4 linked regions of the Homo sapiens genome follow. The protein of the gene in region 3 purifies or fractionates together with the protein of the main gene of each other region. This does not show direct contact. Each region holds a gene or a part of one and is shown on either strand. Other genes may lie near its edges. The genes, in order: NPTX1, TUBB8, TCTN1 and TCTN2.

Region 1 (7,030 bases), on a different chromosome or scaffold from region 3:
ACTGAGTTGGGGAAACACTGGGCCACTCTCTGCCTCTGCGTCAGCTGCCCCTGGGAAATGGAGACCCCTCCACCCAACATCCAGCATCACCAGACGGTGTGGGGTTGTCAAAGGGCACAGGGCAATGCACAAGCGAGGCACACACCCCCTGCAGGTGAGGGTCACCTGCACCTGGCTGGGGAAGAGGGGTGGCTGCAGGGGGAGGTGGCATTGGCAAGCCTCGGAAAAGAAGAGACATCCTGAGGAGACCACAGTCTTTCTCCACTCTTTACTGTGTAAAAATAAACTCAACAATTCATGTCATTTCAGCAAGAAAATGAAAAAAAAAAAAAAAGCAAGAATACCAGTAGAAATAGTGCATTTCCAGAATTGCTGATGGGAGGTGGCAGGTCCCATGGTTTTGACCCATTTGATACCCAAAAGGCTGCAGATCATATGAAAAATGTACAGCTTTGGTTAGCAAATAATGAAAAAGTGAGATACATCGATTCTCTTTCATATTATACAGTATATACATTATAACAATATCAACCATAGGGGGTTTGCTTTTTTTTTTTTTTTTTTTTTGGCAAATGAGACAAAATTGGGACTCTAAGTATTGGGCTTTTTTTTTCTCTTCAATGACTTGTTCCCTTTCAACAAATTGCACTTCAGTCCACTGTGTACAGAAGTAATACATTTCCCATCGTTAGTTGAATAAATTTACACACTGTGTTTAAGAGATGAAACCACGACTTCGTCAAGCCACATTTGGTTGCCATAAGATTCCAAAGGATTCTATCCTCTTAATGTGAACCACATGTAACCCAAGGTTCTTCTATCAAGGTTAGAACTGATATTCAAATCCTCGGCTCATTCCACTTAGTAAGTCAGCTCCAAGACACAGGTTCACCATAAATGGCCAGTTTTACCTCCTGGTCCCCAACATGCTTTTGAGAACAGGTGGCCCCTCTTTGGAGCTCACTGGAATGACTGAACCTCATGCCAGCCTCTCCTCACCCCCTCACTGCCCACAAGACACCCCCTTGGTCTCAGGTCCCAGGGCTGGTGACAAAGTGATCTTTGCAGTCTTAGAAAATAAACTGGGAATCTACAAAAGGAAAAGAAAGCATACAAAATGTATCTCTTTCTTCCAAAATACATGCTTTCAGTTCTACGTTTTGGTGGAGCCTGAAAGTATTTTCAAGGGAGATATAGGTTGAGTTAATTTATAGGTTTGTCCTTTTCTTTCATAAAAATACTCTTGTTTGGTAATAAACTTTTTCTTCTACAGTAAGAGAAATAATACTGTGTTATCAAAAGCAAGAAGGCTTACGACTCAAGTGGGATCTAAGCCCCTGAGGGCCCGGAGAGCTTCTGTCAACAGCTCTCCCACCCCGGACACCCAGGGAGCTGTCGGACACCAGCTCGGCAAAAGCAAACACTGCCTCAACAGTGCTTTTTATCTTCTTGTTTTATAAAATGGCTTACCTGAGAGAGGCATGTATTATTCAGTGCAAGAGGGAACATCAATCAGATTAAGGAGTAAATGGGAACTACGTGGATTAGATTTGCGGCTGTGTCATCGACCTTTCTCGGGGCCAGCAAAGTGCCAAGTGTCAACACAGTGAGGGAGTCGAGGGGCTTGGCTCAGACCCTAGCAAGGGGCAGGAGGGAGCTAAAGGTCAGCTTCGGCCCTGGCACCATGGGTGGGTCAGAGGAGGGGTGAGGAAGGTGAGCGGGCCAGGAGGCTGCAGGGGTGGAGGCGTAAGCACTGGGGTGTGCTCTGCCCCTCGCTAGTCAGGGCAGAGGATGGCTCATGGTCCTGAACGGACAGCTCCCACCTGGCCCACGGGGGCAGAAGGTGGTCTGCGGTCCAGTAGATCGGCAGGGGCGGGGCTGGCCGGAGGTGCTGGCAGGGGAGCACCCCACACAGCCCGCACCGGGCGTTGCCTACACAAGGGCTCCGAGATGGCTGGAGTGAGGGTGGGGCTAGATCTGGTCTAGAGAGGCGACTCCAAGCTCTCTTGCTGGCTCCCAGCTGTGGGAATCCTTTAGGCTTGTTCTCAACCTACACGTTAAAAATGCTTCTTGGTGTGTTTGGGGAGGGGGAGAGGGAAACTGAGCTCTCTCTTGACCTCCTCCAACACCCTTGACTTGCTTACCCAGCCATTTTCAGTAGCTACACGGGTGGTCACAGAACACTGGGCGGCACTCGGCACACAACACAGAACCGGGGCAGTCCATGCAGGTGCGGGAACACATGTCGGACCCAGGGAGCAAGGAACACGCCACCCCGAGGAACATGCAAACGGAGAAGATCCCTGCAGATCCAAGGATGCCACAACCCGACGGGCGCTGAGGAAGCACGATTATCTAAGAAAAAGCCACTGTTGAACAACAACGCGCAGCACGGCGCCTGATCTGCACCCCCCTCTGCGGGAGTGATGCATTGCAGAACGGCGGCCGGGTACCGTGCAGACACCCACGAGAACACTGACACAGAGACACTGACAGACACACACAGATGCACTAGGTTCTTGACACAACGTGGACCTGTGTTTAAGGGGACAGGTGGCCCTAGAAGGAACAGAAGACAGAAACACCTGCTCCTCCTGCAGAAATGTCTGCAGCTGCAGCTGAGCCAGGCAGTGCAGTAGAATTTCTAGAAAGACTTGTCAGCGGTTTGCTGATGAGACTCCTGGAGACAGAGTCGGGGTGCCCTCAGGGCGTGCGACCACCAGATGGTGCAAAGCAGGAAGCTCCTCCTACCCTGGGCAGGGCCTCCCGAGCCTGCTCTCTTTCTCACTTAGCGCACACACACACACAACACACACACACACACACAAATGCACATACACTTCTCTCCCCTCCTTGGAAGGACTAGAAGGAAATGTCCATGTTGCTTTTCACGGGGAACAAAAAAAGGCAAAAAGGTTCTGGACACTGCTCAGGTGTCAGTGTCGCCGGCCAGTGGCAGCTTGTGGGCTGCTGTAGGCCGTGAGCCCCATGAGATGGAGGAGTGGGTTTCAGGCCCCTGCCCTGGCCAGGCCTGGCTCCACACGTGAGGTCTCTGGAGTACCCCTGGAGGGGTCTGAACCAGCTCACCTGGCGCCTGGTGTGCTGGGAGGGATATGGCTGTCAAAGTCCCCCAAAAAGGACCTTCCCACCGATGGGCTGGGTTGAAGTCCCAGTGGCCCCATGTGGCCAGGTCTTCATCGAAACACGGCTTCTTTCCTTAAAAGGTCCCCTCTGGTCTGCACTGCCGGAGGCCAAAGGAGAGGGGTGCTGGGGCCCGGCTTCCCGGGCTGTGGGTGGCACGCTCCTCTCTCAGGGCCCTCTGGGCTGAAGCAGTGCAGCACAGCTCCAGAGGTGAGAAGGGAGGGGCAGACCCCAGCCTTGCAGGATCTGAGGAGGTGGGAAGGTCGAGGGCAGGGCCGTCCTGGGGCAGAGCTAGCTGAGCTGGGCACACAGGCCGACCTCCCAGGCCCCATGCTGCTCTCAGATGCAAACAGCAGGGATGGATGCTGTCTGGCCCTGGGGTAAGGGCCAGTGTCCTCAGCCATCCCCTCTCCTCCACGGGAGAGCACAGGGTACCATCCCAGGACGGCCTGCCTTCACCCTTCAGAGACAGTTCACTTCTATTACAAAATAAAAATTCTCTGTAGAGAGCCCCCGCCCCCGGCCTTTGACAAACCACTAAAAGACATTTATTACATCAATATAAAGATATGTCGCTCTGAGAAAGGTTTGCAAACAAAGACAAATGCGTGTACTGAGGTTGCACCAACCCCAAAGCACGCACGCAGCTAACAAAGTTGGCAAATATGAATTTTCATCATGAGATTTTTCCAAAGCCAGAAGAAAGAAGGAAATGAGGTACGTCCTCAAAGAAAAGGCCTCCCCCAGCCACGCACGCACACACGTAGACACACACATGTAGACACGCACACACAGATCCTCTCACCAACTTCTGCCTTGTTCAAGACGTTGCAGCACCCACTTCAGCTGTGAATGGGGCATGCCTGAGAGAGTCCGGGCTCCTACAGAGAAGTGGGGCTTCCTCAGGGACAGATGGGAGCAGGGGCTGCTTCGTGTGCATGAGGACAAAACCAGGCTGTGTGCGTGTGCGTGTGCAGGGGCGACGGCCTCGGTTCATTCCTGGGGAAAAGGGAGAGAAGAGACGCACAAAACAGATCATCGCCGCACAAGCAGGGGGCGAGGGCGGGCGGGCTCAGCCTGGCCTGCCGTGCTCAGTTGATCTGGCGACAGGCCTCGAAGGTCCACTTGGTGGCCCCTCCGTAGATCTCGATGTGGGATTCAGCCCAGGCGATGACATTGCCGGACAGAGCCTTGGTGCTGCAGGTGGCCAGGTTGTACACCTCCCCGGGGGTCAGCTTGCGGTCCCAGATGTTGAAGTGGGCCAGCTCACCCACAAATGCCTGGGTGGCATCAAACCCACCACCCAGAGTGTCCTTCAGAGAAAAACAGAGGATGAGAGTGGAGGGGTCGCCAGGTGGTCTGGGGGCCCATCCCTAGGCCGGGGATCTGAGTGCCTCTGTGCCTGCCCGATCACGGACTCTCACGGACACTCCTAGGTGCCGTTTCGTCTCCCTGTCCCTGACTCTCCAGCCCTACATCCATCCCTCCTCTGGGGGAGCCCAAGAAAAGGGATGGCACCGACCACCTCTGCCCTGGAGCTTCTCCTGGGGGGACCTGGACTCTGCCCCTCCTGCAGCTGGTCCCTCAGCCATGGACAACCACAGCAGCTGGGCCTGGGGCCCCTGCCCAGACATCACTCCATGCCAGCTAAAGCTGCCCAACAGGGACAGACGTCCCCGATTCTCCATCCCTTCGTCTTCCTCCCAGGTGCCCAACAGGAGACAAACCACTTCACGGGAACTAGATTATGCATCACTAAAAGCAGAACTGGCCTTCCCATGCCAAAGAAAGTGTTGCTGCAGCTCTGAGAGCGTTGAAACCAGAGCTCACTCCTGCAGGAAGTTCAAGTGCATGTCCACCCAGGGCACAGGCCTTGCCCAGCCTGCTCCCCGGGCTGCTTCTCAGGGGAACCACTTCTCCGGCTACCTCCCTCCCTCCTTGCTCCTCTTCCCCTTCCCAGCCTCTGGTTCTGAAGCTCTCTCCCCTTCCCCACCACATCCAGCACAGTACCTGCTCCTGGCCCAGCACCAGCACGCCCTGGGGCTTGATGGGGTGATAGGGCGCCAAGTTCTCGCCACTGCCACCCTGCGTGCCATCCTGGTAGGCCTCCCAGACCCCGTCCCGGGTGGTCCAGGTGACACAGATGTGGTGCCACTTGCCATCATTGATGACAAAAGGCAACTTGGCCACCTGGGAAGGAGAATGACAGACGCCAGCTGGTGAGTACAGGGGTACAGCCCAGAAGCCATAATCTTCACTGCCTCAGTTGTTCCTATCTCTACTTGCAAAGTAAATGTCAATAACTATTACTGAATTCTCACAGCACCTACTGCCCCAGACTTCAGCGTCTGTCAGCCCCGCCTGGGCGTGGGGCACAGAATCACACAGGAAATGTAAGGCTCTACCGAGGGAACCCCCAAGGGCCATGTGGGTGTGCAGTCTCTTCACTCCTACTCACCCTCCTCCCTCTTTGCTAGTCTACACAACAAGCCCTAGTCTACACCAGGGAGAGCCGTCCCTGGTGTCTGAGTTCACTGCTGCCTCTCAAGGCTCCGTGCGACATCTGTGCAGCCTCCTTGCTGGCCTCTCCTCTCTCTTCCGATGTCCCATCTCTAGCTGTTACACCCTCTCACTCTACAACACGGCAAGCTTTTGCCGAGGATCTGAGAGATGTCATGGAGCACGATGCCTTTTAAAGCTCAGACCAGCCTCCAACCTGGAATTTCACTCTCCCACTGCCATTCCAGGTCGGGAGGATGACGGTCCAGCAGACAGTGAGGAAAGAAACTTCACACCCTTTCCGCTTGGGGAAAGGGGGCCCAGAATGGCACAGCCCTTTGTGGGGAAGAGCAACAGGAACAAGGGCGTGGAATCCACTTCCCAGCCCAGGTTTTAGCCATTGACTACCACTGCTGGCCTGGACTTGAGACAGTTTGAAAGCTGGCAGCTAGTTCCATAGCTAACAGGGGAGGATGGAGAATGTTCACTAGAGGGAAAGGCTGCCTGTGCTGTCCTGTTCCAAGGGATCACACAGACCTGTCCTCCTCCCGAGAGTTAGGGGGCTGAGTGGGATAGACTTGGACTCAGGAAAAATCTCTAAGGACCCCTCACCCCGCTAGAGCATCTCTGGGTCCCTGCTATGGAGGGGCAAAGCCAGTTCCAAGGCCAGCTGGTGGAGGAGTCCAGATCACATCATCGGGCAGGGCCAGGCCCCATGGCTCGTTCTCCGCCATCTCCCGTACCCACCCCAGGAGGCATCCGGGAAGGTCCAGCTCTCCCTGCTCTCCCAGTACAGGTGAGGGGGCTCCTACCACTTCTCCTGGTCTTCACCCTCCCCCTCCCTCAGTCCCACCTGGCAAACACTTTCCTTGGGGCCCCATCAACATCTGAGGCCACCATAGCCCTGTCTCCGCATGCAACATGAGCTGGGGCCCTGGGGCCTCGCCCTGCCGCCCTGTGAGCCCGGGGGCTGCTCTACCTTGTCATTGATGAGGATCTCCATGGGGTTGTTGCCCCACTCAATGAGGACCAGCTCGTTGGCCTGGCCGGGCACAGCGTAGGAGAAGGGCGTGCCCACACCTGGCGTGGCGCTGGACTTGAGCCACATGCAGACAGTGAAGGCGTACATCTCTGGCAGGCTCTTCTTCACCTTGGCATACATATAGTTGGTCCGCAGTGGGAATGTGAGCTGGAACTTGTCTCCAGGGCGGTTGTCTTTCTGACCTGCGGAAGACACAGTCCTGACATCTGCACCTGCGTGAAGTGCTTATCGGTGTCTGAGTTGAGTTCGGTCCCCACCAAGCTCTGTGATGCGTGGCCAGGGCAGGCTCCGGTCTCCATTCTGGAGACGCAGAGCGGGTAGCTTCCCAGGTCAAGTACTTTGCCCCAA
Region 2 (7,303 bases), on a different chromosome or scaffold from region 3:
AAACACTGTTTTTCTTTTCCACTGAATAACACCACATTTCAAAATGAGGGGAAACATCTTGAAACTAAGAGGTATGGCCTTACTAAATTTGTTTTGGTTTCCATTGTAATTAATTTAATCACATGTGTTCTAGAGTTTGTCCTCAGTCTTCTACTTTAGGCTCATGATCTGTTGAATTTGCTCAGCTCCCTGCTCAACAGCAGGAAATCAGAATTATTTAAAAGCCTCATTGTGGCTGGGAGCAGTGGCTCATGCCTGTAATCCCAGCAATTTGGGAGGCCAAGGTGGGCAGATCACTTGTTGTCAGGGGTTTGAGACCAGCCCGGCCAACAGAGTGAAACCCCATTTCTACTAAAGATACAAAAATTAGCTGGGTGTGGTGATTCATGCCTGTAATCCCAGCTACTTGGGAGGCTGAGGCAGGAGAATCACTTGAACCTGGGAGGCAGACGTTTCAGTAAGGCAAGATGGTGCACTGCACTCCAGCCTGGGCAACAGACCAAGACTCTGTCTCAAAATAATAATAATAAATAAAAATAAAAATCTCATGTTTCAAACAAAATTTCTTTTGCATATCAACTGTGTCAACTTGCATATTAACTATAATCATTTTGTTTACTTTATGTCCAATCCTGAGAAATCTTTGAGTACTAATTTCACTCTTTTCTGCCATTTTGGTAAACATACCAAATGCCATCAAACAAAATGCACAAAATTCCTGAGAAATACATTTTCTCCTTGAGGAGTATACTTGTTGTGTTAGAGGAACTCGTGGTTACCAAGCTTCTAGTTTAATACACATGACTAGAATTCTCTATCTTAATATGAGTAGCTAGGTACTCACAAGGCATCTAGAAGGTTAATACCTATGGTCTGAAAATAGCCACATTTTTTTACTGGCCACAGATTACAATTGCAGAATATTTATGGCCATACAAGACATCTTCCACCAAGCCTGAAAAATGTATAAATGTCCTAGGAGTGCAGCATTTTTTGTTAAAGATAATATTAACGAGCTAGCTTAGGTCAACGGGTTAATGGTCATTGTTAAAACGAATAGCCCCGACTTTAATGAGTACATCTGCACCTTCCAAGTTTAATTATAACTCTTTCTCTTTATAGTTAGAGACACTAACAAAAGACAATGCATTCCTGCTCTTGTTTTCTGAGGATGTCCAACTCTGTAATGGAGTCATTTCTAATAAACTTGCTTCTTTCACTGTGCTCTCTGACTCACCTCAAATTTTTTACTGCACAAGATCTAAGAATCCTACTTTGTGGTCTGTGTCAGGACCCTCTTTTCTAGCAACATCTTTCAGCAACACCATGAAGGGACACCAAGACAAGACCCCCACTCCAAGGAAAACAATCCACATAGAATCATTTAGCTGGCAAGTGGGCTGTGTTTTAGGGTCATGAAGCCATTCAGGTTGGCAAGAATGATTACCCACTATTACTTAAGTGAGAGGCCCTAGGGTATAATATTAGGGTGAGAGACTCAGCCCAAAGTAGAGACCTGGGGGTGTCATACTCAGATTAGAGGCCAAGCCCACAGGGTTAGAGGCCCTGGGGAACATTGAGAAGAATGGATTTGGCTAAACAAGATGTTTGCCACTTTCTCTTTTTGGACTGTCCACCTTGTGCTCTTTGTCCCTCACCTGAGTGCTCTGCATATTGTTGCCTTTCTGCTCACCGCCTCCGTTTTGCAGTAGCCTGGAGGCAGCCCCAGGAAAGAGGCCCCAAACAGTTTAGCTTTTACTTTCCTTAGCGATCCTCTGACTTTTAGCCTTGATGTCTTAGAGCTATTGCTGCTACCACTTTTCTAGTTGGCAAAGATAATAAACTAACATTAGAACAGCACCTACAGGTTTTTGACCCCACACCAAGGGAAGGTGGTCCTAGAAGGTAAAGGGCAGCAGTGGATAATAGGAGAATATTTATGAAAGTGTCAGGACTTATTGCTAGACCGACCCTCCAGACACAACCCTTAAAGCCTGCCAAGCCATAAACCCAGCTACTTAGCTGTCAGAGTCCACAGGTGCTTCTAGTCTTTCTGGCATACAGGCTGTATTAGTCTGTTCTTATGCTGCTAATAAAGACATATCTGAGGCTGGGTAATTTATAAAGAAAAGAGGTTTAATTGACTCACAGTTGCACATGGTCGGAGAGGCCTCACACTCATGGCAGAAGGCAGGTGAGGAACAAAGTTACATCTTCTACATGGCAGCAGGCAAAAGAGCTTGTGTAGGGAAACTCCCCTTTGTAAAATCATCAGCTGTAATCCCAGCACTTTGGGAGTCCAAGGCAGTGGATGACCTGAGGTGAGGAGATTGAGGCCAGCCTGGCCGACATGGTGAAACCTCGTCTATACTAAAAGTAGAAAAATTAGACAGGCATGGTGGTGGGCGCCTGTAATCCCAGCCACTCGGGAGGCTGAGACAGGAATCGCTTGAACCCAGCAGTCAGAGGTTGCACTCCAGCCTGAGCAACAGAGCAAGACTCTGTCTCAAAAATAAATAAATAAATAAACCATCAGATCTCATGAGGCTTATTCACTGTCATGAGAACAGCATGGGAAAGACCCATCCCCTGATTCAATTACCTCCCACTGGGTCCCTCCCACAATATATGGGAATTAGGGGAGCTACAATTCAAGATAAGATTTGACTGGGGACACAGCCAAAGCATGTCACAGGTTATGAAACAAATTGATTCTAGCAGGCCAGACATAAGAGAGATGATTCCCTGGACCATCCCAAGGAAGAGTGGTTAACAGATGCAAGTTGTTTTATGCATCAGGAAAACAGGAGGGCTAAATATGCTATTATTAGCACAAGAGAATCAATCAAGGCACAAGCCTTGCTGGCTTCGACCTCAGCAGCTCAAAAAGCTGAGTTAATTGAACTAACTAGGCCCCTGCAGTTGGGAAAGAATTTAAAAGTTAACATTTACACTGATTCCAAGTATGATTTTTTAGTGCTTCATGCTTATGCTGCAATTTGGAATGGGTGGGGACTCCTGACCCCCAAGGGCTTTTCCATACAACATCGTTCAGATTTTGAGCTTGTTAGAGTGCTGCTTTGCTGCCAAAAAGTGAGTATAATTAATTGCAGAGGACATCAAAAGAGAGACTGACCATGTAAAAGGAAATGCCCTTGTAGATGCCACAGCCAAGGCCCCTGCACTGAAAGGGCCAATGAAGCTTGTGGGCGTGCTGGTCAGCATACATAGAACTGGGCCAGAATACCCTGAAGAAGAACGAAAATGGGCCAGGGATTGCATTTCAGTCCAGGGCCCCTCGGGCTGAATGATGGTAATAAATTACTAATGCCAAGTACCAATCACAGGAGTATAACTCAGCACTTTCATGATTCTTTTCACCCTAGAAGGGATTCTTTGTTTCTGTTAATGTCTCATTTGTTTATAGGGGTAAATCTTTTCAAGACACTAAAACAGGTGACTCAGCCCTGTGAGCTTTGTGCCTGACATGACTCAAATGGCCAGCAATTTTCTCCTTCTCCAGTTAAACCTGTCCAAAATTGAGGAACCTATCCAGGTGAGAACTGGCCACTCTAATTTACCCGGAAGCCTTTCTGCAGGAGATTCAAATATTTGCTAATGCTTACTGACACCTTCACTGGTTAGATCGAGGCATTCCCCACCCCATCTGAAAAATGTTTACCAGAAGAAATAACTCCTCAGTTTGGGTAATCCAAAAGCCTGCAAAGTGACAATGGCCCATCTTTCACAGCAGGCGTATCCCAAAACCTGTCCTCAGCTTTAAGAATCCAATATGACCTTCACTCTGCTGGAGACCACAGTCCTCTGGAAAGGTGAAAGGGCTAACCCTACTCTAAAGAAGACTCCAGCTAAATCAGAGGCCTGACTGTCTCTAACACCCATAGCTTATTGTGGGTTAGAACTGCTCCAAAGTAAAACGTATAATTGAGTCCTGTTGAGTTCACATGTGGAAGGCCTTTCCTAACCACAGATCTCCTAATAGATGAAAAGACTCATCAATTACAAAAATATGTCATCAATCTAGGACAGGTGCAAAGGCACTCCGTGCATATGGAAACAAGAGTCTTCCCCTCCCACATGGGAGGAAAATTCAGTTTCAGCTCAGCTAGGGATTTAGTCTTACTAAAGACGCGGGAGGAAGTTCTCCAGCGAGCAGCTTTCCCCAACGTGGAAAGGACCACGCAAGGACACCTGAGCTTTCCAACAGATGTTCAGCGCCAGGGGATCCACAGGTGGGTGCACCTGTGTGGAAGTAAAGCTGTTGCTTATTCTGGGAGCCGAATCCGAGGCGGAGGGAGGTGGGCGCGGGGCTATTTAAACGTTGGCGGAGGGCGGGCTGGGTCGCTGCGCGTCTGCTCCTCCTTCTCACGTTTCTCCTGCCGTCCTAATCCCGCCTTGGCCATGAGGGAGATCGTGCTCACGCAGATCGGGCAGTGCGGGAATCAGATCGGCGCCAAGGTTGGCAGCCGGGGCTCTGAGGGCCTAGCCCGGGCCTGCCGGGTGGCCGGGGAAGGTGTTGGCAGTGGCGGGGGCGGTGCCCATGCATTGCGGCCCCTGGGCTCCCTGCCGGGGACGGTGGAACCGGGTGGCTGGCGAGGCGGCCGGGGTGGACCCCAGGGACAGGGCGGCCTAGGGATGGGGGTGCGGATGAGGGTGGGGGTGGGAGAGCGGCTGGGGCGCCTCCCTGACTCAGCCCCGGCCTGTCTGTCTCCTCCCGTCTCTTGCAGTTCTGGGAGGTGATCTCTGATGAACATGCCATCGACTCCGCTGGCACCTACCACGGGGACAGCCACCTGCAGCTGGAGCGCATCAACGTGTACTACAACGAGGCCAGCGGTGAGACCCCCGTCCTTCCCCCACCGCCCTCCTGGGAACGCGGCCCTCCCCTCGCTCATGCCCTCCCGCCCCACGCAGGTGGCAGGTACGTGCCCCGCGCTGTGCTCGTGGATCTGGAGCCGGGCACCATGGACTCTGTGCGCTCGGGGCCCTTCGGGCAGGTCTTCAGGCCAGACAACTTCATCTTCGGTGAGCTGCGGGCGAGGACTGGGGTGCGGCTCCTTAGCCAGGGCAGCTCAAAATCCAGGAGTGTGCTAAGGTCATCCTCTGGGAACTGTGGAGCTAGGGCCCCTGAACACCCTCCTATCCTCCGAGTCGAGTCGCTCAATCTGCCTCTCCTAAATGGGCTTCGGGAGGAAGGCCCTGGTGTCTCCTCAAGGTGAGGAGTTACTGATGTAAACTCCCTGCAAGAACCTGAGCTGGGGCCGTGGCTACTGCCTTTCCTGAGAATGGGCAGGAGCCACCTGCAGCGAGGTCTGTGAACCCGTCTCAGGTTTGACTCCTGTCTTAATTCCTAACAGGGGAAGCTGCTGTCCTGTAACTCTGGGGGAGGGGGTTTCATCTGCTCCACCTGCAGGGCGAACGGTGCTCTCACCTCACGTGTGACGCTTGGCTCTTTCTGCATTATGGTGGTGACCACTGATGACCGTATACCTGGCCGTCGAGTGACCGGCTGTGCTGTCTTACAGGTCAGTGTGGGGCCGGAAACAACTGGGCCAAGGGACACTACACCGAAGGCGCGGAGCTGATGGAGTCAGTGATGGACGTTGTCAGAAAGGAGGCTGAGAGCTGTGACTGCCTGCAGGGTTTCCAGCTGACCCACTCCCTGGGTGGGGGGACTGGGTCTGGGATGGGTACCCTTCTGCTCAGTAAGATCCGGGAGGAGTACCCAGACAGGATCATAAACACATTCAGCATCCTGCCCTCGCCCAAGGTGTCGGACACCGTGGTGGAGCCCTACAACGCCACCCTCTCAGTCCACCAGCTCATAGAAAACGCAGATGAGACCTTTTGCATAGATAACGAAGCTCTGTATGACATATGTTCCAAGACCCTAAAACTGCCCACACCCACCTATGGTGACCTGAACCACCTGGTGTCTGCTACCATGAGTGGGGTCACCACGTGCCTGCGCTTCCCGGGCCAGCTGAATGCTGACCTGCGGAAGCTGGCCGTGAACATGGTCCCGTTTCCCCGGCTGCATTTCTTCATGCCCGGCTTTGCCCCACTGACCAGCCGGGGCAGCCAGCAGTACCGGGCCTTGACTGTGGCTGAGCTTACCCAGCAGATGTTTGATGCTAAGAACATGATGGCTGCCTGTGACCCCCGTCACGGCCGCTACCTAACGGCGGCTGCCATTTTCAGGGGTCGCATGCCCATGAGGGAGGTGGATGAACAAATGTTCAACATTCAAGATAAGAACAGCAGTTACTTTGCTGACTGGCTCCCCAACAACGTAAAAACAGCCGTCTGTGACATCCCACCCCGGGGGCTAAAAATGTCAGCCACCTTCATTGGGAATAATACGGCCATCCAGGAACTCTTCAAGCGTGTCTCAGAGCAGTTTACAGCAATGTTCAGGCGCAAGGCCTTCCTCCACTGGTACACGGGCGAGGGCATGGATGAGATGGAATTCACCGAGGCCGAGAGCAACATGAACGACCTGGTGTCTGAATATCAGCAATATCAGGATGCCACGGCCGAGGAGGAGGAGGATGAGGAGTATGCCGAGGAGGAGGTGGCCTAGAACTCTCCTTTTCTAGGTAAAGGGGGGAAGCAGTGTGGATTCTTTACTGTGTTCTGACAGCCATGTGTCACTATACGCTTGTTAATTTGTGTCTTCACATCTCCTGCTGCGTTTTAAAGCATTTTTATAGTATGCGGTTTTGACTAATAAAGTATTCTCACAGCATCTGGTTTTGCCTCCATCTTCTTTCTATGGGCCCTCTGGCTACTGCTGCCAGATGCGCATAGTTGTCCTGCAAGGCGGAAGCTGTCTGGGTTCATCACATGCCCAGGAACAAGCATTCCAGTGGCTCCAGGAGGGGTCGGTATGGGCTGTGGACATGGCAGGCAGGCTTCACATGAACTTGGGGATGCCCTGGGCCTTGGGCAGTGACGTGGTGGAAAACCTGTTGCTGAAGGCAAGCCTTGGCTTATCCCATATACCAAACTTCTAGGGGACCAGCTGGCCATGTTTCTGGAACGTTAAAAGGGGTCAGTGACCCTGGTGGACAATGTCCCCAGAGTCCCATCTCAGGGTAGGAATGTGGTCAGAGCTGGCTCTGAACCAGCAATGAAGGGTGGGCAAGTGGGACCCCAGGCACTCCATCATCACGATGGCCTGGGTGTGTTTGTGTGGCCTCATTCTCTTAATGAGGTGGGCATGGGATGTCTGGCAGGGACTAGGCAGGAATCAAGCCCAGTGTCTGCTAACATGCACTGA
Region 3 (4,832 bases):
AACAGGAAGGTAAAGGGGAGAAGGTACAGGTTCCATGCTAGTGGTCTCTGTCTTCCAGGTGGTGTGATGAAGGCAGCCGGGGAAGCCAGCTGTTAAGGAGGCAGGATGGCCCTGAGTGGGAGCGCGGGCTGAATCTTGGATACTGATTTTTGCCCCTTGTTAGCAATGTTGCCTCTGGCCAGCAGTTTTATGGCTTTGAGCCTCTGTTTTCATCTGTGAAATGGGAACGCTAGTCAATAGTGAGTGAATGGCCTCATGGGGCATTGAGAGGGTTAAGTGAGGTAACATTTATGTGGCCCTGGGCATGGTGCCTAGTGGTCCATAAATGGGAACCTCTGTGATCCTCATCCTGTTGCTACCATCATTGTGATTGCTGGTGTCCCCCGAGCCCTCTCCAGGCATCTCATGACACGATAGACGAATGTTGAGTCCTGTATCAAAGACTGAGACTGACTTCCGTGCATGTGGCTCTCCCACCCATTGTCCCCTGTTCTACACAGGCAGCCCACACCTGAGAGTTTTCACTGCCACAGTTCCTCACAGAGTTGAATGGAAGTTGACAATCCTACAGATAGGTTCCCGGTCACACATGATGCTTCTGCCCACCTTTTTCTTTTGTCTTAGCAGTCAGCGTGTGGGCCGGCCCTGGCCCAGGGGCGTGCTCTCCATCTTAGCCTGTAATTGCCCAGCTTGTTCTTGTCACGCTTTCTTCAGACCTCTCATTATCCGCTCCGAATATTTCTAGCATGGGCATAACGGGGGTGAGGACTGCTCACTTCTCTGATCCGCCCTCCCACCGAGGCCAGCAGAGACCCGGGATTACTCAGTCCCTGCCGTTCCACTGCGAAGTCTTGACTCAACTCTCCCACCAGAACCAGGCACATCGCTTCTGGCTTCTTGGCCATGGGTGAAGATGTGCAGTTATTACTCCTCCTCAGAAGGGAAGACATGGGTTGGGAGGAGAGGCAGCAGTGCGCACATGGCACCGTCAGGGTCTGTGCTGATCCTGGGTGCTCAGAGGGCCTGCAGCAGCAGGTTTTGTACCAACTCTGCCGGCAACCCAGGTAGAGGCAGGCACGAGCACCTGCTAAACTCAGTTTCCACCAGCTGCATGCTGCATTGTCTCCTAAGAACAGGGTATTCGAGAGGATTGTTCAGTCTGCATGGTTTTTAAAGGCGGTTCCAAGCTAAGGAATTCCATCAGTGCTTTTTTCGCAGCCACCAAATTTAGCAGGCCTGTGAGGTTTTCATATCCTGAAGAGATGTATTTTAAAGCTTTTTTTTTTTAATGAAAAAATGTCAGACACACACAAAAGTAGAATAGTACCATGGAGTCCCCACGTACCCAGCCTGCAGCTTCAACAGTTACCACATTTGCCAACCGGAGAGACTGCCAAGGCAGGAAAAAGCCCTGGAAAGCCCACGGCCCCTTTTTCCCTTGGGTCAGAGGCCTTAGAGCTGGCTGCCAAAGCAGCCAACCAAAGGGGCAGCTCAGCTCCTTCGTGGCACCAGCAGTGTTCCTGATGCAGTTGAAGAGTTGATGTCTTTGACAACATACGGACACTGCCTGGATTACCTAGATGTCACATCTTAATTGCCAATTGATGAAATTAGGTAAATGAAAAGAAAGCACTTAAATTTCCCCTTAGAGCATTTTAACATGACATGCAATCAGGTTTTGTCTGCTAATAATTATTTCTCCCCCTCCATCCCTCCCACCAGTTTCTTTCCTGAAGTCTGTGAGGCCGCTATAAACAGGTAGATGAAGTTAGAGCAGTTATGGCCCTAAATGGTCCACAGTTGGGTATTGGCACTACCGCAGTTTCAGGTGATGTCGGCATTTTTAGAAATAGGAGGAGATGGAAAAATTACGCTTCAGCTGTTAAAAATATTTTTGGGGCATTGAGTTACTTTAAAACACGTATATTCTCTAAGCTGTTTTTATCTGAACTTGTAGAGTCTATTCATTTTCTTGTTCAGAACATTTTGTAATATGTGAAACCTTTTATAATTAAAACTCTGAACTGCAGATTAAGTCTGACTTGCAGTTTTGTAAGATTCTAATGGATTAACAGCATTTTGTTTTGCAGGATTCCTGCCAGCTCCCAGGGGCTTTGGTTATAGAAGTGAAGTGGACTAAATACGGATCCCTGCTGAATCCACAGGCCAAAATAGTCAATGTAACTGCAAATCTAATTTCATCCTCCTTTCCTGAGGTAGGCCTAACCTAGTTTAAAGGCATAGGTTAAGACAGAAGTCTAGACACAACTCAAGTGTGGTAGGTGACAGGTATTACTTTGTGAAAAAGATTATAATTTAAACCATGGGGGTTCATAAAATATTTCAGCAGTCATTCTTAGAAACACTGACGATGGTTCTACTTACATTAGCATTCTGGTTCAGATTGGATCTTTAAAATTCTCATGAAAATTATGATATTCACGTGTTAATCAGACACCCTGGTAAAATTGTTTCTCTCATCCAAGTTAATGGCCAATTAGTGCTCCAGGACCTATCAGATTCATGAACTGACAGTAGTTGGGTGAGGAAGAGAATGAAAAGTGTCTCATTGTTGTCATTCTGGGAGCACACTGGAGGGTGGGCCTTGCATCTCTCTGTTTATTACAGGCCAACTCAGGAAATGAAAGGACGATTCTTATTTCCACTGCGGTTACTTTTGTGGATGTGTCTGCACCTGCAGAGGCAGGCTTCAGAGCTCCACCAGCCATCAATGCCAGGCTGCCCTTTAACTTCTTCTTCCCGTTTGTTTGACGTAAGTGAGGAAACTACGCCCCTCCTCTGAGGTCATCCCCTTTGGAAAGTGTGCACGTGGGGCTAGAAGTCCCTAGGGGATACTGCATTTTATACTTTTTGAGGGTCTCGCTTTGTTGCCCAGGCTGGAGTGCAGTGGTGTGATCATGGCTCACTGCAGCCTTGACCTCCTGGGCTCAAGCAATCCACCCACCTCAGCCTCCTAATAGCTGGGACTACAGGTGCACACCACAACACCTGGCTAATTTTAATATAGTTTGTAGAGATGGGGTCTTGCTGTGTTGACCAGGCTGGTCTCAAACTCCTGGGCTCAGGTGCTCCTCCTGCCTCGGCCTCTGAAAGTGCTGGGATTACAGGTGTGAGCCACCATGCCTAGCCTTATTATACTTCTAACCTTTGAGGTTGCCTCCAAACCAGCACACTGCCCTTCTCCACTCCCTTCCTGCCTTTTTTCCTTTTGGAAATGTTATTCTATCTGACTTTTGAATGGGGAATATGCTTAACACATAGGTCATAGATGATAGAACCCAAAAAGTCTTTGGGGAGATGGTAAAGAACATGAACAGGACTTGAAGCAGCAGAGGCAAGGGGGATTTGGCCAGTTCATTCATCCCCTGCTTTGAGTTATTTATTTTAAAAATACTCAGTTCAGGTTTTTTCCTTTTTGGGTCCGGTTGAAATGAGTACAAAAAAATAGCAAAATATTAGATAAAATCATGCGAGAAGAGCACACAGCCCTTACAAGGGGATCTTCCCCCAAATACCTTGTTAATTATAGTGGAGTCTTGGGTCTAATTGCCATTTCTGCACCAGGCACTGTAGCTAGCTTGCTCTCCGACTGGCAGGCTGGTATGGGTGCCACAGAGGAAAGAATACAGTAGGAGGGTCCAGGGAAAAGAGAGAGTTTATTTTATACAGTAGTTGTTTTATTTTATACAGTAGTTGTACAGTAATTGAGGAAAAATGTTGTCAGGTGGCAGAAAACAATGGAGCCACCTAGAAGCTGGCTGATGCAGCTGGGGCACACAGAGGAGGGGCCTGGGTACCCCTTTTGGGGAAACTGAGACGAAGCTATTTAGAACAGCTTGAAAATAAGAGACTTTTCTAGAATGGGGTGGCAGCTAAAGTAGCTTCTTTTTCTTTCTTTCAGAATGCTCAGATGCATCAGTTCCTTAATATACACGTGAAATTTGAAAACTGTACATTCGGTGAGATTAAATTTTATATACAACTAGCAATTGTCCAGCTTTGTTGCTCATTTTCAATTAAGGCTAAAGTGTTCAACATGAGAAAATGTGATACATTTGATACAGTGTGGGGTGGGAGTGGATGGGCAGCTCTTGGTGGTACTGGACCTTCCACAAGGCTGTGTCCACCCAGAATCCATGCTGGCAGGAGGGAGGCAGAGGTATCAAACCAAACCTCTCACCAAGCGGCCCAGGAGGGGCAGCTGTTCCTCTCGTGACAGCACAGGCCCATGAGACAGTGTCTTCTTTTTGAGGGGAGCTGGTCCGGGTCTAGTTCACTTCACCAAGAAGTCCATGCTGTCGCAATAGTTTGTTAAGTCTTTCAATTTCTTGTTCCTATTGCAAAAGCAGACAAACACTGGAATTTACTTTGAGCCTCGCCAGGGATGTGACAATCAATCATTCAGTGAGCCCCAGGCACAGGACCACAGAGATGAATGAAAGCTACGCTGTTTGTGGCATTCAGTCTGCTGAGGAGACTGCTACAATCAGATAGGCTTCACTGAGCAGCAGTGACAGCAGTGAGAAGACAAACGTGGGGGACCTGGCAGAGCCCTGGGATGTGGGGGTGGGCACAGCTTCAGGGAGGATGTGACGCCTGGGCTGGATCTGAAAGGACAAGGCAGGCTCAGCCCAGGGAAGGGCGCTCTAGGTGCATGAGCAGCGCTCTGCTGCAGGCGGGTGCTGCGGCAGAGGCCAGCTTCCCAGATATCTTTTTTTTTTGAGACAGAGTTTTGCTCTTGTTGCTCAGGCTGGAGTGCAATGGCGCGATCTTGGCTCACCACAACCTCCACCTCCCGGGTTCAAGCAATT
Region 4 (7,030 bases), about 13 Mb from region 3:
GTATACTTCACTTGAGTCTGTCTTGCTTTTCTAAACTTATTTTTCTTTTGTTTAGTTTTCTTTTAAGAAATTTCATTTTGTACTATTTTATTTAACATTTATTTGATCTTTCTCTACTGTTTGCATCTTTATAAGCTACCTTGAATCCTTTTTGGGAGAAGGTGAAATTTGTTTATGTACATTGATTCTCTCTCTTTTTTTTTTGAGATGGAGTCTAAGTCTGTCACCAGGCTGGAGTGCAGTGTTGTGATCTCGGCTCACTGCAACCTCCACTTCCTGGGCTTAAGCGATTCTCCTGCCTCAGCCTCCCGAGTAGCTGGGACTACAGGCTCACGCTACCACGCCCAGCTAATTTTGTACTTTTAGTAGAGATGGGGTTTCACCATGTTGGCTGGGATGGTCTTGATCTCCTGACCTTGTGATCCGCCTGCCTCGGCCTCCCAAAGTGCTGGGATTACAGGCGTGAGCCACTGTGCTCGGCACGTGCATTGATTGTCATGACTGCATCTTAAGAAGAAAAAAGGAAGGGTGGCCAGACGCAGTGGCTCCCACACTGTAAGTGCTTTGGGAGGCCAAGGCGGGGGAATTTCTTGAGCCCAGGAGTTCGAGACCAACCTGGGCAACACAGCAGATACTGTCTCTATAAAAAATTTTAAAAAGCTGGGCATGATGGTGCCTGCCTGTAGCCCTAGCTACTAGGGAGGCTGAGGTGGGAGGATCGCTTGAGCGTAGGAGTTTGAGGCTGATGAAGTTTACATCATTTCCAGCTTTTTTTAAAATTTATTTTTATTTTCATTTTTTTTAGAGACACGGTCTCACTCTGTTACCCAGGCTGGAGCTAGAGTGCAGGGGCACGATCCTGGCTTGCTGCAGCCTCAACCTTCCTGGTTCAGGCGATCCTCCTGCCACAGCCTCCATAGTAGCTGGGGCTACTGGCGTGCACCACCACACCTGGCTAGTTTTTACATTTTTTGTAGAGACAGGGTCTCACTATGTTAGCCAGGCTGGTTTTGAACTCCTGGGCCCAGGTGATCCTCCCACCATGGCTTCCTGAAGTACTGGGATTACAGGCAGGAGCCACTGCACCTGGTCTGTTCCCAGCTTTTGATGCTACAGCAAAGATCGTTATGCCCGTGTACATGAATCTTTGGACATGAGAAAATGGTTTTGTGTTCATCTCCGTCTCACATGATGTTAGTGTTCTTAAACCAAAAGAGCTTTCAACTAGATGTGCCGATGTAGAGGGCTCTGCAGTGATGAGTGCTACTGCCATGTCCCCTGTCTCCGGTGGCGAACTCTGACATCTCTTGCCTTTATGGCCACGTGGCATGGAGGGAGAAGCGTTCCAGACTTTAGTAGCAAAAGTCTGTTACCTGGAGACTCCTTTACTGCCGCTTCCCTTATTACATCCCTAACTGTGGTCCTCCTGGTGCTTCTGGAAGTTTAGGATGATAAGACAAGTTTTGACAGCTCCTTTCAGCAGACTACTGTGCCCTCAGTGTACTTGCATGGAAAGGCCTCCATGATGAATGAAGTGAAAAAAGCAAGTGCAGATGGCTGCCTACAGTGTGCTATCTTTTGCATAAAGGAGGCAGAAATGAAAACATTTGCATAAAGAAATTCTGGAAGGATGTTGGAGAAGCTAATAATGTGCTACCAAGTTGGAGGATGATGTGGGAACAGGAAAGGGCTGACAGTGAGGAATTTTTTAATATGCTTTTGATTTTTTGGAACCATGCAAATGTGTTACCCACTTAAAAGTTTTAAATTTTTCTATGGCTTAAAATTCAAAACAAAGCCAAAAAAACCGTATTCAATGATGAAAAAAAAAATCCCCCCAAAACAACAGAAGGGATTCATGATAGCTGTACCATTCAAAGCACTGACTTTTTTCCTTTGAGAAATATGCTTGAGGCCAGGTGGTGGCTCATGCCTGTAATCCCAACACTTTTAGAGGCTGAGGTGAGTGGGCCACTTGAGCCTAGGAGTTCAAGACCAGCCTGGGCAACATGGCAAAACCCTGTCTCTACAAACAAATACTACAATTAGCTGTGCGTGGTAGTCGGTGCCTGTAGCCCCAGCTATGAGGGAGGCTGAGGTCGGGGGATCGCTTGAGCCCAGGAGGTGGAGGCTGCAGTGAGCCAGGATTGCTCCATGTACTCCAGCCTGGTCGACAGAGCAAGACCTTGTCTCTAAAAAAAGACCGGGCGCGGTGGCTCACGCCTGTAATCCCAGCACTTTGGGAGGCTGAGGTGGGCGGATCACGAGGTCAGGAGATCGAGACCATTCTGGCTAACACGGTGAAACCCCGTCTCTACTAAAAATACAAAAAATTAGCCGGGTATGGTGGCGGGTGCCTGGAGTCCCAGCTACTCGAGAGGCTGAGGCAGGAGAATGGCGTGAACTCGGGAGGTGGAGCTTGCAGTGAGCCAAGGTCACACCACTGCACTCCAGCCTGGGTGACAGAGCGAGACTCCATCTAAAAAAAAAAAAAAAAAAAAAAAAAGGAAAATATGCTTCAGTATATTTAGGTAATATTTAATATTTTAGAATACCAAACTTAGAAAATTGAACATCTTTGTATATGAGTGATTGAGTTGTCAGCTCTGACCCCATGAAGGCATGAAAAATTTTTTACTCAGCCAGCCAGCGATTAAAACTAGAAAAAGAATGGAAGCACAGACAGGAGGTATGTGTCATACCCAGTAACAATGAAGCCAGCGAACAATGTAGAAAACATAAATCAACACACAAACATCTATTTGTATAACACATAGTAAAACCCTATTCTGAAGTGTCTCGTGGCTGGGGGTGGTGGCTCATGTACTATGCCTGTAATTCCAGCACTTTGGGAGGCCAAGATGGGAGGATCACTCGAGCCCAGGAGTTTGAGACCAGCATGGACAACATAGTGAGACCCTGTCTTTACAGAAAATATGAACGTTACCTGAGCATGATGGTGCACACCTGTGGTCCCAGCTACTTGAGAGGCTGAGGTGGGAGGATCACTTGAGCCCTGGGAGGTTGAGGCTGCAGTGAGCTGTGATTGTGCCATTTCACACTTCAGCCTGGGCAGCAGAGTGAGACCCTGTCTCAAAAAAAAATCAATAAAGTGCCTTGCTTGTGTCACATGGGTTTGATAACACTGAGGGTCAGACCCTTACCCGTGTAACGTGGTCTGCGATGTGGACCTTCTCCTTGTTCCGGATACCATTGATGTATCATTGACCTTCTGCTATGTTACAGGATAGAACAGATCGTTAGTTGTTCTTTAGATACTTCAGCTATTGTGTCATTACAGTTAACTGTTATGTGGGGTTTAAACAAATAGTTCCTGCATGGTTTTCTAACGTGTACCAAATGCAAAAGTAAAATTCAGCAGAATGAAACTTTTATCTGATAAATGATTGGAGAGAAATCCAAAGCATTACTGTCACTGGATTCTGAGTTAGGAGGCTGAAATGTCGTGTAACATATTCCTCTTCAAAGAGGAAAACAAGTTCGGAAACCTGTAATATCCTGAAGAGTTATAAACAACGGGCCCTGCCAATGTTTACCTTTTTAGCATTTCTCCTGAGCTGCTTTCTCTGGCCTTGTCCCATTCACGCCCGCCACCTTCTCCCCTGCACCACAGTGTTCCCCCTATTCATCCACCCCCTCTGTCTTCCACCTACAGCTCTCCAGTAGCCCCTCTTACCTGTACAAACTCTTTCTTTTTTTTTAAAGTATAGATGGGGTTTCTCCATGTTGGTCAGGCTGGTCTCGAACTCCTGACCTCAGGTGATTCCCCCGCCTTGGCCTCCCAAAGTGCTGGGATTACGGGCCTGAGCCACTGTGCCTGGCTACCTGTACAAACTCTTACGTGTGTTTCAGGCTCAGCGCATTCTCTCTCTCTGCAAGTCTTCCTGACGCCCAGCCTAAGCCACGTGCCCTCCCTGGGTTCCCATGGCAGATCCATTTCAGTGTTTACCCTTTATGGTCACATGATCTCTTTACCTGTCTCCTCCCTCTGAGAGTGCGAGCCCCTCAGGGAAGCTGTTGTGTCTCACTGTATCATCCCTGCATAACCCAGCCCCCCATACTCTCGTGGTCAGACCACATTTGTCCCACCTGCACTGTTGGGTACCACAGCCACGAACCATGTCTGGACACTGGACAGTTGAAAGGGGATGGGTCTTAATTGAGATGTGCTGTAACTGTTAAACAGCCACCAGTTTTTGAGGACTTAATGTGAAACAAAGAATGTGGAATAGCTCATTCATAATTTTTACATTGATTGCCTGTTGCAATGATATTATTTTGGATACGTTGGGTTCAGTAAAATATATTAAGTTAATTTTATCTGTTTCTTTTTTGTAGCCTGGGCTACTTTTTGTATTTTTATTAGAGACAGGGTTTCACTATGTTGGCCAGGCTGGTCTTGAACTCCTGACCTCAGGTGATCCACCCACCCTGGCCTCCCAAAGTGCTGGGTTTACAGGTGTGAGCCACCCCGCCCAGCCTAAAATCAGTACATTATGTATATACTAACTTGTGACTCTTAGTCAATTGATTATCTTCTAGATCAACTATGACTTCTTTGGTTCATTGTAACTGGCGTGTTTTCTTATGTTTGGGTTTTTGTTGGAGTGGTAGATGCAGGCCTCATATACTTCGTGGATTCCTTAATGTCAAATATTTGGTAATAATGATTTACAAAACAAGATAATTCAGCTTGCTTTTTTTTTTTTGACACGGAGTCTCACTGTGTCGCCCAGGTTGGAGTATAGTGGCACGATCTCGGCTCACTGCAAGCTCCGCCTCCCGGGTTCACACCATTCTCCTGTCTCAGCCTTCCAAGTAGCTGGGACTACAGGCGCCTGCCACCACGCCCAGCTAACTTTTTGTATTTTTAATAGAGACCGGGTTTCACCGTGTTAGCCAGAATGGTCTCGATCTCCTGACCTCATGATCCACCTGCCTTGGCCTCCCAAAATGCTGGGATTACAGGCGTGAGCCACCGCGCCTGGCCGATAATTCAGCTTTCTTTTGAATGTCAAAAATGTGACTGTGCTTTGTCGGAATGTTTCTTAGCTGAATTTTTCTGTTGTGTGTACTTTTCAGAGAACGTGACTGTCATTCCTAACCAGGTGTATCAGCCCCTTGGCCCTTGTCCTTGTAATTTAACAGCTGGAGCCTGTGATGTTCGCTGCTGCTGTGACCAGGTATGTTCTTTGGTTATTGGGCACAAAAGTTATGCTACCTGTGAGAACACCAGCAGTTCCACCAACAGCTTTTTTCATTTTTTATTTCTTGAGATAGGGTCTTGCTCTGTCACCCAGGCTGGAGTATGGTGATGCAATGATGGCTCACTGCAGCCTCGACCTCCCGGGCTCAAGTGATTCTCTTACCTCAGCCTCCTGAGTAGCTGGGACCACAGGCATGAACCATCACACCCAGCTAATTGTTTTGTATCTTTTGTAGAGATGGGATTTTGCCATGTTGCTCAGGCTGGTCTCAAATTCCTGGGATCAAACAGTCCTCCTACCTTGGCCTCCCAAAATGTTGGGATTACAGGTGTGAGCCACCATGCCTTGCCCCAACAGCTTTTTAAGGGATGGTCTTCCAAAACTGAGATTATGTTTTCTATTGCAAATTGTTTTCAAATTGAGTTTTTTTTTTTTTTTTTTTTTGAGATGGAGTCTCGCTCTGTCGCCCAGCCTGGAGTGCAGTGGCGTGATCTTGGCTCACTGCAAGCTCCGCCTCCCGGGTTCATGCCATTCTCCTGCCTCAGCCTCCTGAGTAGCTGGGACTACAGGCGCCCACCACCACGCCCAGCTAATTTTTTGTATTTTTAGTAGAGACGGGGTTTCACCGTGTTAGCCAGGATGGTCTTGATCTCCTGACCTCGTGATCCGCCCGCCTCGGCCTCCCAAAGTGCGGGGATTACAGGCGTGAGCCACCGCGCCCAGCCCAAATTGAGTATTTTTTTAAATTTAAAAATTTTGGTGGGCGCAGTGGCGCATACCTGTAATCCCAGCACTTTGGGTGGCCAAGGTGGGCGGATCACCTGAGGTCCGGAGTTTGAGACCAGCCTGACCAACATGGAGAAACCCCATCTCTACTAAAAATACAAAATTAGCCAGGCGTGTTGGTGGGCGCCTGTAATCCCAGCTACTCTGGAGGCTGAGGCAGGAGAATCGCTTGAACTAGGGAGGCAGAGGTTGCAGTGAGCCAGAATTGTGCCACTGCACTCCAGCCTGGGCAACAAGAGCGAAACTCCGTTTCAAAAAAAAAAAAAAAATCACACAACTTTTGAGTAAATTTTTTTTTTTTGAGACGGCCTCCTAAAGTGCTGGAATTACAGGTGTAAGCCACCATGCCCGGCCTGACTTTTTTTCTTTTAGGCTTAGAGCAATACAACATATAAACTCTATTTTCTTTCTTTTTTCTTTCTTTTTTTTTTTTTTGAGACAGAGTCTCGCTTTGTTGCCCAGGCTGGAGTGCAGTGACACGATCTCGGGTCACTGCAACCTCCACCTCCTGGATTCAAGTGATTCTTGTGCCTCAGCCTCCCGAGTAACTGGAACTACAGGTGTGCGCCACCACACCTGGCTAATTTTTGTATTTTTAGTAGAGGCGGGGTTTCACCATGTTGGCCAGGCTGGTCTTAAACTCCTGACCTCAGGTGATCTGCCTACCTCGGCCTCCCAAAGTGCTGGGATTACAGGAGTGAGCCACTGCACTGGGCCTAAATTCAGTATTTTCTTATCTGGCATAGTCAGTCTAGTTTTTGGAAGAAGGAAAGAATATCTCTTTGGATAAAATCATGATTGTGAAGATCATACTGGGGGGATGGTTTTAATAATATTTATTCAGAAACCTTTAAGAAATATAAAAAAAGAAAGAATAAGAAAGAACAGGCCTGGCGAAGCAGCTCACGCCTGTAATCCCAGCACTTTGGGAGGCCGATGTGGGTGGATCACTTGAGTTCAGGAGTTGGATACCAGCCTGGGCAACATGGCAAAACCCCATCTCTACAAAAATTAGC

Evidence for each region.
Region 1: the proteins of TCTN1 (region 3) and NPTX1 purify together in Homo sapiens (affinity purification with mass spectrometry; 2 studies listed by BioGRID and IntAct, with this or other methods). This does not show direct contact.
Region 2: the proteins of TCTN1 (region 3) and TUBB8 purify together in Homo sapiens (affinity purification with mass spectrometry; 2 studies listed by BioGRID and IntAct, with this or other methods). This does not show direct contact.
Region 4: the proteins of TCTN1 (region 3) and TCTN2 purify together in Homo sapiens (affinity purification with mass spectrometry; 3 studies listed by BioGRID and IntAct, with this or other methods). This does not show direct contact.

What each region holds. Positions count from the first base shown.
Region 1 is NC_000017.11:80,466,581-80,473,610, forward strand, and holds the end of NPTX1 (neuronal pentraxin-1 precursor), read right to left. Parts: intron 6,865-7,030; coding exon 6,620-6,864; intron 5,332-6,619; coding exon 5,152-5,331; intron 4,455-5,151; coding exon 4,233-4,454; 3' UTR 254-4,232; downstream 1-253. UniProt on the Homo sapiens protein: May be involved in mediating uptake of synaptic material during synapse remodeling or in mediating the synaptic clustering of AMPA glutamate receptors at a subset of excitatory synapses.
Region 2 is NC_000010.11:46,358-53,660, reverse strand, and holds TUBB8 (tubulin beta-8 chain), read left to right. Parts: upstream 1-4,364; 5' UTR 4,365-4,422; coding exon 4,423-4,479; intron 4,480-4,748; coding exon 4,749-4,857; intron 4,858-4,935; coding exon 4,936-5,046; intron 5,047-5,202; exon of another isoform or gene 5,203-5,236; intron 5,237-5,378; coding exon of another isoform or gene 5,379-5,546; coding exon 5,547-6,604; 3' UTR 6,605-6,773; downstream 6,774-7,303. UniProt on the Homo sapiens protein: Tubulin is the major constituent of microtubules, a cylinder consisting of laterally associated linear protofilaments composed of alpha- and beta-tubulin heterodimers.
Region 3 is NC_000012.12:110,645,121-110,649,952, forward strand, and holds the end of TCTN1 (tectonic-1 isoform 1 precursor), read left to right. Parts: coding exon 1-9; coding exon of another isoform or gene 10-23; intron 24-2,075; coding exon 2,076-2,216; intron 2,217-2,628; coding exon 2,629-2,772; 3' UTR 2,773-2,773; intron 2,774-3,565; exon of another isoform or gene 3,566-3,922; 3' UTR 3,923-4,289; downstream 4,290-4,832. Other genes in the region: HVCN1 (voltage-gated hydrogen channel 1), read right to left, coding at 4,290-4,355. UniProt on the Homo sapiens protein: Component of the tectonic-like complex, a complex localized at the transition zone of primary cilia and acting as a barrier that prevents diffusion of transmembrane proteins between the cilia and plasma membranes.
Region 4 is NC_000012.12:123,674,086-123,681,115, forward strand, and holds part of TCTN2 (tectonic-2 isoform 1 precursor), read left to right. Parts: intron 1-5,103; coding exon 5,104-5,204; intron 5,205-7,030.